Linked DNA regions of Homo sapiens: region 1 is linked to region 2. The links come from fine-mapping of genetic effects on gene expression. Tissue or cell type: testis. Region 2 holds a variant in brackets; the other region holds the start of a gene. All regions are shown on one strand. Distances are between the middles of the regions.

Region 1 (2,743 bases), 800 kb after region 2:
TTTATCGAATGCTGTATTCCCAGCTCCTACCTAAAACACAGCCTGGTTTATAACAAGTGCCCATTATTACTGACTATTATAGGACATTAGGTAACATGATCCATATTATCACCAATGGTCTTGCAAAATGCTAACAGCTCTATTACCTATATAAAAAGCAAAAAAACAGGCTGGGTGTGGTGGCTCACAACTGTAATCCCAGCACTTTGGGAGGCTGAGTTGGGCAGATCATTTGAGGCCAGGAGTTCGAGACCAGCTTGGCCAACATGGCAAAACCCCATCTCTCCTAGAAATACAAAAATTAGCCAGGCACGGTGGCGGGCGCCTGTAATCCCAGCTACTCAGGAGGCTGAGGCGGGAGAATCGCCTGAACCTGGGAGACAGGATGTTCCAGTGAACCCAGATCGCACCACTGCACTCCAGCCTGGGTGACTGAGACCAGGTCTCAAAAAAAAAAAAAAAAGTGGGGGGAGGCATATAACTTATAGCTTGGTCAGTGGCAGAGCAATGACTGAACCCCAATCTGATTCCAAATTCTACACTCTCTCCATTACATTAGCTGTTAAAGCATGAACATTACATTAGTTAAAGCATGGACTACGAACTCACAGCTCTGTGAGGGGCACTTCTTAAATAGTGAGCGATAATGACACCTATGTCTGCAGCTTTCTGATCGAAAAGGAGCAAAGAAAGATAGAAGAACTAAAGGAACAGAGGGCGTACCAGTAGCCTTGGTTTTGTTGTGACCTCTATAAATCTGGGACCAGTTCTCCTTTCTAAGCCTTCGCGGTAAAATACTGATCACAAGCCTAGCCTCCAATAACTCCCAGGGCCAAAGTAAAGATCAATTCAACAGACGTTGATTAAACCCAAAGGCAATCTAGTCAAGTCATCAAATGCCCTGGGGACAGTTTCCCAGCTCCATCCACTTATTAGTTGTGGGACTCCTGGCAAATTACTTTTTCTATGAATACCTCAGTTTCTTCATGGGTAAAACGTGAAGCTATAGAAAGAACTCACCCCATAGGATTGTTGGGAAGATTAAATAGGCCTTTGGCTGAGCGCGGTGGCTCACGCCTGTAATCCCAGCACTTTGGGAGGCCGAAGCGGGCGGATCACCTGAGGTCGGGAGTTCGAGATCAGCCTGACCAACATGGAGAAACCCCGTCTCTACTAAAAACATAAAATTAGCCGGGTGTGGTGGCGCATGCCTGCAATCCCAGCTACTTGGGAGGCTGAGGCAGGAGAATCGCTTGAACCCGGGAGGCGGAGGTTGAGGTGAGCCGAGATCGCGCCATTGCACTCCAGCCTGGGCAACAAGCGCGAAACTCCGTCTCTAAATAAATAAATAAATGGGCCCTTATGTGTAATGCATTCAGTAGCACCTGACAATTTGTGATCATTCCGTACAGTAAGCCATGACTATTATCATCACGTGCTAGGCCCTGGGATCTAGAGATGAAAAAGGCAAGGCATAACATCTAACGAACGAGCTTACGGTGTCAACGAGGGGCCGGGAAAGTAACTCGGTGCACAGCGAGTGCAAAAACCGAGAAGCGAATGCAGCTGCGCCTGGAGAAGGCGGCTGAGAAGCGATACTTCAGCAGGGTCCTGAAGAATGGGAGCTCCAGAGTCGGGTGGCGGGTGGGACTGGGCTTTCGGATAGATTACGTGCAAATCCGCCAGGACACAGGGAGCGAGGGGCGGGGGGGCGGCAGAGCGCGGCGCCTCACCCTCCCAGCCTGGGATTGCGGCTACTGGACACGAGGGTCGGGAAGCTCTCCTTCGGCGCCGACTGGAGCTTAGCGTGCTGGCGGCAGCAAGAAGCTGAGGCAAGCGGGCCCCGGGCCCTAACGACGCGTCCCAGCCCCTCTCTGGGCCTCGGGTTCCTCCCGGGTAACAAGAGGCCGCTGCCCGAACGGGATTCCCTCAGGCGCCCTAGACGGGCGGGTCTCCGGGCCTCGGACGGTTAACCCGAGCACCTCCCACCTGCCCCTGAGGCCCCACCTCACCACGCTCGGCTCCCGCAGACGCCCGGCTAGTTGCTCCGCGATTGAGCTGCGGCAGCCGCTGCTAAGGCCCTGCGGGGGACGGGGGCGGAGCCCACCCCGAGGCAGAGGGCCAGGCCCCGCCCCCCCAAACTCCCGCCCTTTGGGAGGGGCCCGCCCCTCCAAGTCCTGCACCTATAGGCAGACTGAGCCGGCGCAGGGCCTCCCGCCATGTTGGGTATTGGCAGCCGACTTACTAGAGAGGCCCTGAAGGAAAGGGGGTATTATTTTAAGAATTATAAGATCCCTAGCCAGAAATGGGGACGGTCAGGGTCTCTGGATTCGCGAAAGGGACATTTCGGAAGCAGAAAAGAAAAATTGCCCTCAATCATTTCGCTTTTGGCTTCAGTGTTACATACAGCGCATGTGCAAGGTCACCTGGTTCTAGGTGCGCCTGCGCACAGCTCCACCTACAAACCAGACTACAATTACAACTGCCGAGAAACAAAGGGGCTCGCTGCCACTGGTTAGCGATAATACTGGCAGCGCGACCGGTTTCTGAGGGTTGTTCACCTTGCTGCTCAGACGCTCCGAGAAGCTTCAGGCAGCATAACACTTACAGGCGAGTTACTTACTCAACACTCGGTTTTGTCTGCATGTCTCTGCACAGAGTGTTACCTTTACCTGACTTAATCCGTCCCGGAGCTGCAGTTCTGCTTAAGCCTGACTTCTAGAGAACTTTTTCTTCCCAATAG
Region 2 (2,500 bases):
GTCCTTCTGCTTCCACCCTTACTTACCCCCTGCAGTCTGTGTCCGACACAGCAGCTTGGGATCCTGTTACAAACAGAAGTCAGCTGCTGGGTGTAGCTCATGCCTGTAGTCCCAGCTACTGAGGAGGCTGAGGTGGGTCACTTGACTCTGGGAGTTTAAGGCTGTAGGCCGCAGTGACAGCGCCTGTGAATAGCCACTGCACCCCAGCCTGGGCCACATAGTGAGACCCCATCTCGAAAAAAAAAAAGCAAAAACATGGAAGTCAGGTCATGACACGCTTCTGCTTGAAACCCTCAACCGTGTGCCCATTTCGCTGATAAAATGGACAGGTCTTACAACAGCCTATAGGCCCTGGACAACCTGGTCCCTGGTTTCCTCTCCTAGTATTCTCGTCTTTGGTCACCCCACTCCTGCCTACTGACCCTGACCCCCTGATGCTCCTCCAATACAAAAGACAGGCTCCTGCCCCAGGGCCTTTGCCTTCGCCGTTTGTTCTGCAGGAACACTCTCTAGACCCCTACATGGCTCACTTGCTCACCTTTAAATCTTTGTCCAAATGCCACCCCCTTTAAATTGCAGCATCTCGGCTGGGCGCGGTGGCTCACGCCTGTAATCCCAGCACTTTGGGAGGCTGAGGTGGGCGGATCACGAGATCAGGAGATCGAGACCATCCTGCCTAACATGGTGAAACCCCATCTCTACTAAAAATACAAAAAATTAGCCGGCGTGGTGGCAGGTGCCTGTAGTCCCAGCTACTCGGGAGGCTGAGGCAGAAGAATGGCTTGAACCCGGGAGGCGGAGCTTGTAGTGAGCCAAGATCACGCCACTGCACTCTAGCCTGGGCGACAGAGCAAGATTCTGTCTCAAAAAAAAAAAAAAAAAAAAATGCAGCGTCTCCCCTCACCCTGCCAGGACTCTCCGTTCCCCTTACCCTGCTCTATTTTGTTTCCCAGGAGCATTTCTCAGGATGGGCCCACTCTGCAGTCTACTTAGCAT[G/ATG]CTTACTGTGTGGCTCCCCCACGAGGATGTTAGCTTACTGTGGTCCCTGAGTGCCACAGGCATGGAGCTGACCTCAGCCACCCTGTGGCTTCTCCCCGGGTCCCCACTCTACACTCTCGAGTATGTGGAGACCTCCTCCTTAGGCCAGCCCTCCCACCTCTGTTCTTGGGTGAAGGTCCTACATTTTTCTCCAACGCTCCTCACTGCAGGCGGGCTCTCCTGAAGATGTAACTCCATCTGTCATCCCTTAGAAGTGAGAGGCCAGACCTGAGCCAGGTGCACTTTTTGGAAGTGGACAGAGGGAAGAGGGAGAAATCAGGAGAGAGAAGCAGCAAGACAAAGACCCAGGGAAGAGGGAAATGTTGAGTTTCTTTAGGGCAGGGCCACCTGACACTGGACAATGCAACTGAGACGCCCCTATTTTTTGCCTCCTCCCACCAAGCAGCTGTCAGCCTGACAAGGCTCAGGATTCCTATTTTCCAGAGAAATCGAGGGAGTCGACACAGATCCAGGACACATGAGAGTAGGCCTGGCAGGCTGGGGGTGGGTGGGGTGGTGGTGGGGCAGGGGACAGGGGGAGCTGAGTGCCAGATGAATGCCTGCGCACCCTGCCCCCCAGTAGTGAGCAGCTGACATTATTTCCCACTCTCATCCCACCACTCAGCCCATCTCTCAGCAGGGAGGCCCGTCCAGGAGCCCAGGGTTGGGGGATAACTAGCCAGTACCGGAGACCTTGGATGCTCTGAAGATGGAAGGGTCTAGAAAGCTCTAACAGAAACAAAGCCTGTCCAGGCCAGATCCAGTGAATCTGAGGTGGGGAAGTGCCATCTACAGTCAGCGGGGGACTGAAAAGAGAAGCAGCGTCTGCAGAGCTGCAGGACCACACGGGCTCCCGGATTACTGGGTAGCTCAGGTGAGCCTTCCCCTGAAAGGAGTATGGTCCTGATTTCAATCTGGCGGACGTGACTCAGTGCTGGCCTTGACCGTGGCATTCACTCTGCATTTTCAGCCCCCATGTCAGCAGGGGACAGCATCTCAGTCAAGCCAAAGTCTGATTAGTTGGAGAGACCAGCATGTCCCAGTGCCCTGGGAATATTAAGGAATATTTACAAGGGGATGATGGTGGGGAGATAATGGTAAGAGGCAGTCAACAGTGGGGAACTCTTCCACTGCTCAAGTGGTGAGAAATTCGATGGGAACGAGGGAGGCTCACAGCAGGGAGGGTTTGTCATGGGGACAGCGGAAGGGGTTAGAAAGTCGCTACCTCTGCTGATTCTGCTAATAGGATGAGCCAGCCTTGCAAATAAGAGATAGACCCCATGAGGCCTGCATTTGAGAGGGTTTTTAAATCAGGCCAGGTCCTGCCAATAGCTTCACACGTAGATGTGTTAGAGCTGGAAGGGAGCGTGAGATCAGCAACACCACTGGTTCTGTTCCGAAAGCGTCTGCCTTCCAAAAATACTGTAAGTATTAAGTAATAATTAATCTGTTTTCACATTTCTTA

What was found. PIP is the estimated chance that this variant, and not a neighbour inherited with it, causes the effect.
Region 1: CEP250 starts here. The variant in region 2 is fine-mapped to the expression of CEP250 in testis (GTEx, PIP 0.94).

Annotation. Positions count from the first base shown.
Region 1 is chr20:35,454,507-35,457,249 of GRCh38, reverse strand. It overlaps CEP250 (centrosomal protein 250), which reads right to left and starts at 1,652. Exons shown (of 35, transcript NM_007186.6): 1 at 1,499-1,652. It also overlaps a transcript of GDF5 not described here. RefSeq lists a silencer at 1,858-2,237 and enhancers at 2,258-2,407, 2,668-2,717.
Region 2 is chr20:36,259,104-36,261,603 of GRCh38, reverse strand. No RefSeq gene overlaps it. Among named protein-coding and RNA genes, the nearest start is that of AAR2, 24 kb to the right of the region's middle. The variant G/ATG (reference allele first, on the strand shown) is at 997.